2 linked regions of the Homo sapiens genome follow. The protein of the gene in region 1 purifies or fractionates together with the protein of each later gene. This does not show direct contact. Each region holds a gene or a part of one and is shown on either strand. Other genes may lie near its edges.

Evidence for each region. Proteins that work in one complex are often made in the same cells at the same time.
Region 2: the proteins of REM1 (region 1) and SULT1A4 fractionate together in Homo sapiens (co-fractionation; one large-scale study listed by BioGRID). This does not show direct contact.

What each region holds. Positions count from the first base shown.
Region 1 is NC_000020.11:31,477,225-31,482,532, reverse strand, and holds part of REM1 (GTP-binding protein REM 1), read right to left. Parts: intron 4,730-5,308; coding exon of another isoform or gene 4,706-4,729; coding exon 4,623-4,705; intron 247-4,622; coding exon 45-246; intron 1-44. UniProt on the Homo sapiens protein: Promotes endothelial cell sprouting and actin cytoskeletal reorganization. May be involved in angiogenesis. May function in Ca(2+) signaling.
Region 2 is NC_000016.10:29,462,353-29,465,986, reverse strand, and holds the end of SULT1A4 (sulfotransferase 1A4), read right to left. Parts: intron 2,643-3,634; coding exon 2,516-2,642; intron 2,421-2,515; coding exon 2,326-2,420; intron 1,828-2,325; coding exon 1,647-1,827; intron 1,525-1,646; coding exon 1,412-1,524; 3' UTR 1,021-1,411; downstream 1-1,020. UniProt on the Homo sapiens protein: Sulfotransferase that utilizes 3'-phospho-5'-adenylyl sulfate (PAPS) as sulfonate donor to catalyze the sulfate conjugation of phenolic monoamines (neurotransmitters such as dopamine, (R)-adrenaline/epinephrine, (R)-noradrenaline/norepinephrine and serotonin) and phenolic and catechol drugs.

The DNA of each region.
Region 1 (5,308 bases):
AGTGGGGCCCAGGTGAAGAGGAGGTGGTGGGATGGAGGGCTCACCTTCCACAGAGACTTCTCGGCAGCGGGCCAAGTCTGCCTTGTTGCCCACGAGGATGATGGGCACATGGTCTGCCTGATGTGTGCGCCGCAGCTGGATGCGGAGCTCAGAGGCACTCTCAAAGCTGCCTCGGTCTGCGATGGAGTATACGATGACATAGGCACTGCCCCCCTGCAGGCATGACTCCTGGCTCCAGCTTTTATCCTGCAGGAGAGGGACCCAAGACCCATCCTCAGAGGGTATCTAGGCCCTGGCTGAGGAAGGTGGAGCTGGGATGGTCTAATGGGTGGGATGCAGCTTGAGGTTTATAGTTTGGACAGGTGTGGGGGACAACTTCTGCTATAATTCCCTGTGTCACCTTGGGAAAATTGGTGATTCTTTCTGAGCCTCAGTTTCTCTGCTTAAAAATTTAGGCTAATAACACTACCTCACAGAATTCTCTCACTCACTGATACTTTTGCAGGCTGGGTAGTGCAGGCAAAATTTACTTGGTTCCTGTTCCTGCTAAAGAGGGTTCTCTCTTGACCTGTTTAGCTCTTTTGTCTTGTTTCTGAGGAGGGTTTAGTCTTGCCATATGGTTCTTTATGCCTGGTGAAATCCAGAATGAAGAGAAAAAAGAGAGAAAAGTGAGGACAGGAGGCTGACTTTAGAGGGAAGGCATTTTTCAGGACAGTTTTGAAGATGGAGGTGAAGGAGCAACTGTAAAGTGTAAGTTCACAAGGGGATGAGACAGTCAAGGGGCACTTTAAGAAGTGGAGTCCTTTCAAGTTGTTTGACCAAGAAAAAGAAAGAACTGCAGTGCTTTTGATATTTTGGATGGTGATCTTTTGTTAGGGACAGCCCTCCAAGACTGGACTACCTGGGTAGTAACCTTATAAGTGTTGAGTAAGACACGGTTTCTGCCCTCCAAAAGCTCATGGTCTGGAAGAGAGCTTATGGAAATGGGAGTTATAGTGTAGTGTGAAAGTACCAGTAAGAGACATGTGTAAGTGGCTGGAGGAGTGGGGTGGGGAGGCCAGAACAACCCCACCTGGCAGAGTGTGCGAGGGCTTCACAGGGGACTGGCGAATGGGGTTAGGAAGGAGGGGGAGGCCAAGCAGGAGGGAAGAGATTCCAGACAAAGGGAACAGTCAGAGCTAAGGCCTGAAGTGAGAAAGACTGTGTGTGGTTGTGAGGTAGTGAAGAAGCCAGAAATTTTCTTTCATTTTTCTTTTTTTTGAGATGGAGTCCTACTCTGTCTCCCAGGCTGGAGTGCAGTGGCATGATCTTGGCTTACTGCAACCTCCACCTCCCAGGTTCAAGTGATTCTCCTGCCTCGGCTTCCTGAGTAGCTGGGATGACAGGCAGCTGCCACAACGCCCAGCTAATTTTTTGTGTTTTTGGTAGAGACGGGGTTTCACGATATTGGCCAGGCTGGTCTCAAACCCTGACCTCAGGTGATCCACCCACCTCGGCCTCCCAAAGTGCTGGGATTACAGGCATGAGCCACCGTGCTCGGCCAGAAGCCAGAAATTTTCTGATAACCAAATGGGAATTTGGTGATGAATAGGAAAGCATCAGATTCGTGGTCAATGTCATTGTCAAAGGGGGGTAAGTTCTCAACAGCCATACTGATCATTTCCCAGGCCAAATAACCTTAGGGTGAGTCAGACAGATGTGGGTTCTCAACCTTGAGTATGGACAGGTTTCTTCCTTTGGGTCTTAGTTTTCCCCATCTCTAGAATGAGAAAGTGAGTCTTGACCATTCATTCATTCATTGCACAAATATTTTTGGAGGATTTGCTGTATTTCAAGATCACAAAAGCCAGTTAGTGTATGGATTTGTTGGTATGAACTTATTGGGAGTGTGATTAAAAATATAGATTCTCAGCTGGGCATGGTGGCTTATGCTTGTAATCCCAGCACTTTGGGAGGCTGAGGTGGGCAGATCACCTGAGGTCAGGAGTTCGAGACCAGCCTGGCTAACGTGGTGAAACCCTGTCTCTACTAAAAATACAAAAATAGCTGGGCGTGGTGGTGGGTGCCTGTAGTCCCAGCTACTCGGGAGGCTGAGGCAGAAGAATAGCTTGAACCTGGGAGGCGGAGGTTACAGTGAGCTGAGATCACGACACTGCACTCCAGCCTAGGTGACAGGGCGAGACTCCATCTCAAAAAAAAGAAAAGAAATAAAAGAATAAGAAGCTCTAAAAGTGGGGCTGTAGTATCTATGTATGTATGTATGTATGTATGTATGTATGTATGTGTGTATGTATGTATCTGTCTATCTATCTATCTATCTATCTATCTATCTATCTATCTATCTTTATTGAGATGGAGTCTTGCTCTGTTGCCCAGGCTGAGGGTGAGGGCCAGGGTGAGGCCTGATAATTTGATTTTTATTATTTATTTATTTATTTTTTTTGAGACAGAGTTTTGCTCTTGTTGCCTAGGCTGGAGTGCAATGGCATGATCTCTGCTTACCGCAACCTCTGCCTCCCAGGTTCAAGTGATTCTCCCGCCTTAGCCTCCTGAGTAGCTGGGATTACAGGCATGCACCACCACACCTGGCTAATTTTGTATTTTTAGTAGAGATGGGGTTTCTCCATGTTGGTCAGGCTGGTCTCAAACTCCTGACCTCAGGTGATCTGCCCACCTCGGCCTCCCAAAATGCTGGGATTACAGACATGAGCCAACGCGCCCAGCCAATAATTTGATTTTTAATACACTCCAAGTGGTCCTGATGGTCAGCCAACCTGGTACACTAAGGTCCTAAGGCCCATCCAATTCTGTCAGATTCAGCCTCTCTGATATCAGAGTACCATGTAGCGCACAGACGGAACGGATGGATACTTTTTTCAATGATGCTGCTATTGCTTGGACCCTCTTTGAGACCTCTCTTCACAGTCACCGATCAGGGAAACTAGTTCAGTTTCCTAATTTTGCTGGTTGCAAAAATAAAAGGCCAGAAAAGAGGAGAAAATGTTCTCAAGGCGAAAGCAAGCTGGGTGTGGAGTTCCAGCTCCCGCCTTCTAGTCTAGTATCCTTTCTCCCCTGTCTCCTGAGTGGGACTCCCAGTCTGATCACCCATCTTAACTTGCTGGACACTGACTGCCCCATAGCATTCTCAGCTGCATATGAAAAGTAGACCCTCTAACCAGCCTGTGAGGTCCACGAAGCCAGAGGGCCTGTCTGCCTTATTCATCTCTGTGTCTCCAAGGTCCTGGTCCATGATAGACACCCAGCAAGTATTTCTGAATGAATGAATGAGCAAATGACTGAAACCTCAGCTGAAGGTTCAGAAGGTGATGCTCTTGAGGGGGAGGACAGTCATAAGACGAGGACTCTTATGCAGTCCTAATGCATAAGAATACAGCCTCGGCCGGGCATGGTGGCTCATGCCTGTAATCCCAGCACTTTGGAAGGCCGAGGCGGGTGGATCACCTGAGGTCAGGAGTTCAAGACTATCCTGACCAACATGATGAAACCCTGTCTCTACTAAAAATACAAAAATTAGCTGGGCATGGTGACAGGTGCCTGTAATCCTAGCTACTTGGGAGGCTGAGGCAGGAGAATTGCTTGAACCTGGGAGGCGGAGGTTGCAGTGAGCCGAGATGGCGCCACTGCGCTCCAGCCTGGGCAACAAGAGTGAAACTCTGTCTAAAAAAAAAAAAAAAAAAGAATAAGATCTACAAAGATTTTGTAGATCTGGGTTTGGATCTTACTTGCTATTTGAGAGCTTTGGACACATTATTATTATTATTTAACCGCTCTGGTCTTTGGTTTCCTCATCAGTAGAATGGGAATCAGAAGACTCACCATTTAGTTTTTGAGCAGCCTATCCCCTAGAGAGATGGGATCCCAGGTGATTTTAGATCCTTCTCTTTGCTTAGGTGTTTTTCCTCAGAGTTCTACAATGAGCATGTATTACCCATGTAGCAAAAGAAAAGAAAACACAAACCAGATAAAATCATAATAGGGACATATTCCTGCCTACTGCTGTCTTCCTGCCCTGATTTCCTTTTTCTCTAGCTACCAAGTCATAATTACTAAGAGTTATCATTTACAATTCTTCACCCCTATTCAGCAGTTTTTCATGCTTTAAACTGGGCTTACCTCTGAAATTGCATAAGAACTTTAAAAAACTAGCTGATGAGGAAGGCAGGAATGGTTAACCCATTTATCAGATGAGAAAACTGAAGCTCGGAGTGGCTAAGTCAATTGCACAAAACTACACAACTAGTAAGAAAAAGAAAGGGGGTTCAGCCTTAGGTATTTTGGGGCCAAATCCAGCGTTCCTTCTGTACAATGTGGGTGGGAGGGGTGGGAAGAGGGTGGAAATAATGATGGGGAGATCTGCAGGGGGAGAAGTACATTCTGAGATGGCTGCTAGGAGGGGATTGTGGAGTGAGAAAAGGGGTCAGGGTCATAAGGGTCTTCTGTTTGGGATTGGAAAGACTGCTTAGGAGCTGTGGGTTTTGGGGGAGGGTGCTGAGGATGGCCGTTGCTCACACCTGATCTGTAGTGTCCCCAGGAGGGGACAGGAAGGAGTCTAGTATTAGGCTCAGCACCCCTCTCCCCAAATTCTGCTTGCAGTGCCATACCAGTTTCTCGGCCTCCCAGGTGTCCACGACCACCAGTGTGGTGTCTTCTCCATCCACCGTGAGGGTCCTCTCATATACATCTTCTGCAACCGAGGGAAGAGCTGGATCTCAGGGAGGACGGGCAAGCCTGAGAGAGTGTGGTGTTCCCTGCCCCCCATTTCTGGTCATATCGCCCCCTCCACTTGTCCTCGGAAACGCTTATCACACTTGTTTGATGCCTGTCTCTCCTGGTAGGAGCCCATGTCTCCCCAGCTGCCATAGTACCTGGCACATAGTAGGTGCCAGAAAGATTTGATTGATTGAATGAAGGTGGGGTGGTGGGGTTAAAGTTGGGCTAGGAATTCTCCCAGGCCTGCTCTGTCTCTGATTTAGTGAGTGCTTCAGGCAGGTCATGTTATCCTCTCTTGACCTCAGTCTCCCTATCTGTAACACATATGTGTTCTCACTCGGAGAGAGAAGTCAAGACTAGAGAGGAGTCTGGCTAGATGTCCCTACCTTTTCTCTGCATTTAATCAACCCCCTTCCCCCACTCACCCTATGTCCTTTTGGCCAGTCCTTCAGGGGCCTACCTTCATCTCTTCTATCTTCCCTGTACCCCATCATCCTGGGGCCCCCGACACTCTCAGCTCACAGCAGTTCTTGGGAATAAAGCAACCCAGGGCCCAGAACTTGGGGTCTCGGAGTCT
Region 2 (3,634 bases), on another chromosome or scaffold:
CCCGCTTTGTCCCTCCCTGGTTCCTTCCCCTGGGTGCCTGGTGTGCTGCCGTCTCACCCATATGTAGTTGAGCGCAGCAGCCCCTGTAGGACACCTGGCAGATCAGGTCACAGTCCTGCTGTGCCCTCGGGCTCACTCGGGAGCTGGGGGCTCCCAGGTGCTCCTCCAGCAGCTCAGTTCAGCATGCTGGGGGGTCAGGGCCAGCCCCTGTCCCTGGGGCCTCAGGCCTCCCTTTCTTCCCACAGTGGCCAAGATCGCGGGTCTCTACAATGACTTGGAGCCACCCCGGAAGACCATGCGCAGAGGGGTGCTGATGACCCTGCTGCAGCAGTCGGCCATGACCCTGCCCCTGTGGATTGGGAAGCCTGGTGACAAGTGAGGGCAGCAGCTGCGAGGAAGGGGCTGGTGCCCAGGGGCTGGGACTGATCCTTTGTTCCACTCACAGGCCCCCACCCCTCTGTGGGGCCATCCCTGCCTCAGGAGACTACGTGGCCAGACCTGGAGACAAGGTGGCTGCCCGGGTGAAGGCCGTGGATGGGGATGAGCAGTGGATCCTGGCCGAGGTGGTCAGTTACAGCCATGCCACCAACAAGTGAGTGACACCAGCCCCGGGGCTGCTCTCTGCCCTTCCTGTCCACCTGCCCCACAGCCCCAGGAGGACTATTCTATCCTGTTTGAAGACACCTCCTATGCAGACGGCTACTCCCCTCATCTCAGTGTGGCCCAGAGGTACCTGGTAGCTTCTAAGGAGCCCAAGAAAAAGTGACGCTGCCCGGCGGACTCGACGTCCTCCACCATCTTGGGGCAGGACAGCAGAGGATGTGCTGGGATTAAACAGACATCCCCCCTCCACACATCTCCTGGGTTTTACTTCTCCAAACCCTTCTCCCCTCCCCAGATATGGTGACCTGGGGAGCTGAAGGCTGGGGGAGAGGTGACCATATGTGGCCCCACCGGGCATTCACTCTTTCAGCTCAGAGTTTCTCTTCCTTTCCAATACAGGCTCTACATGAACACAAATCATATTTTATTTTGAGCTTTATTTTCTTTGGAGGGAGGGTCTTGCTTGTCATCCAGGCTGTAGTGAATGGGCATGTCATAACTCACTGTATCCACAACCTCCTGGGCTGAAATGATCCTCCAGCCTCTGCTTCCCAAGTAGCTGGGACTACAGGTAAGTGCCAGCACATGTGGCTAATTTTTTTACATCTTTGTAGAGATGAGGTCTCACTATTTTACCAGGCTGGTCTCAAATTCGTGGCCTATTGTGATCCTACCAGCTCAACCTCCCAAATCGCTGGGATTGCAGACATGAGCCACTGTGCCTGACTCAAAAATCATACTTTATTCTTGAGCCCATTGGTCAGGGTAGATTCGCACACTCCCTCTGCAGTGACTCCAGGAGCCCCTCTCACAGCTCAGAGCGGAAGCTGAGGCTGCAGCCTGCCATCTTCTCCGCATAGTCCGCATCGAAGCGCTCATTCTGCGCCACGGTGAAGGTGGTCTTCCAGTCCCCAGCCATGCCTGGGGGAGGAAGGCAGGGAGCAAAGCTGGAGTCTCATCCCAGGGGAGGCCCCAAGTGCCTATGGGGAGGCTGCAGCTGCTGCTCCCACCCGCCCCAAACCCCCGTGCTGGCCAGCACCCACCTTTCCTCATGAAGGGGGAGATGCTGTGGTCCATGAGCTCCTGGGGGACGGTGGTGTAGTTGGTCATAGGGTTCTTCTTCATCTCCTTGAACGACGTGTGCTGAACCATGAAGTCCATGGTCTCCTCTGGCAGGGAGCGCCCCACAAACTCCAGGATCTTTTGAATCTCCCTTTTGGGGTTCTGAGCAGCAGAGGGCTCCTCAGTGGAGCAAAACAAAACGGGTCCCCCTCTCTAACCTCAGAGGGGATCTGGCCACTTCCCCTAGAAACCCCAAAGAGCCTCAACCCCTGGGGCCCTAGTCTCTGGAGTAAAATGAATTGATCTCTGCCCTGTGATCCCATCATGAACAGGGCTTGGCGCCTATGGGTGAGGACCGGGATGGTCTTCTTCCATGACTGTGGCCCTGGGTGGCACACCCTTTGGTGAGGATAAGCAATAGGACTAAGTATCTGATCCGTGGCCACCCATGCAGCTGACTCAGGTGCAGAAGATGAAAGCTGTGCCGAGCCTGCTGCCAGGTGGGGCTGCAGTGGGGGGGCCTGGGCCAGGGAGGTAGGATGGGGAATCCGGGCTTGCTGTGGGAGCCGCCCAGGGACGGGGCTGGGTGGCCTTGGTGGGTCCCTGTGAGGTGCCTGCCCCCAGGTGTCACATGGGGGGAAGCATCACAGTCGGTCTCACCTCCTTCATGTCTTCATAGAAGAGGTAGAGAACAGGGTGGGTGCGGCTCAGCTCCCACCACTCCTGCACGTGCTGGTACCAGGACCCGTAGGACACTAGAGAAGCGGGCAGGGGGCACCGACACAGGGTTGCTGTACGTTATAGCCACCACCCCTCGGCTTCACACCCTCCTTCCTCCAGTCAAGCCCACCTTCTCCAGCCATGAACTTTTCCAGGAAGCTGTCCCAGGTCCCAGGCTCAGGGTGCGCCTTTTCCATACGGTGGAAATGGTAGTAGGAGACCGCCACGTCCTTTGGGTTTCGGGCAACATAGACCACCTGCAGGGGCAGAGGACCCAGCCCCAGCACCATCACCACACAGCCCACCCCAGGCCAGCTCATCTGTTGAACTGGCAAAGGAGGAACCTGAGGCTTAGAGGCTGACTTGCTTGAGATCTCACTGCACAGGTAGGGCCAAGCTGGGATCTGAACCCTGCTCGGAAGCCAAAGTCCTGCCTGGTTCCTGAGACCATATTCTATACTAATATAATCTGCACCAATGCCATCATATCCTGATCTGGAGCAAGGCATGCCTGGTCCCCACCAGCTCCCCCTCCTCCGCTGACCTGTGAGCACCCACATGCTGCCTTTCTTAAGTGTGCACTGTAGAGACTCACTATCCTTGCATCAGACCCTCATCAGAGCAAGAGGCAGACAGTGTCCTCTCTCAAGATGTGATGAAGGCTGGGCGTGGTGGCTCATGCCTCTAATCCCGGCACTTTGGGAGGCCAAGGTGGCCAGATCACCTGAGGTCAGGAGTTCAAGACCAGCCTGACCAACATGGTGAAACCCCATCTCTACTAAAAATACAAAATTAGCCGGGCGTGGTGGCAGGTACCTGTAATCCCAGCTCCTTGGGAGGCTGAAGCAGGAGAATTGCTTGAACCCAGGAGGCGGTGGTTGCAGTGAACCGAGATCACACGATTGCGCTCTAGCCTCGGCAACAAGAGTGAAACTGTCTCAAAAAAAAAAAGGGCCAGGCGCGGTGGCTCACGCCTGTAATTCCAGCACTTTGTGAGGTCGAGGCAGGAGGATCACAAGGTCAAGAGTTTGAGATCCACTTGACCAACATGGTGAAACCCCGTCTCTACTAAAAAGAATACAAAAATTAGCCGGGTGTGGTAGCACACGCCTGTAATCCCAGCTACTCAGGAGGCTGAGGCAGGAGAATCACTTGAACTGGGGAGGCGGAGGTTGCAGTGAGCTGAGATCATGCCACTGCACTCCAGCCAGGGTGACAGAGCAAGACTCTGTCTCAAAAAAAAAAAAGA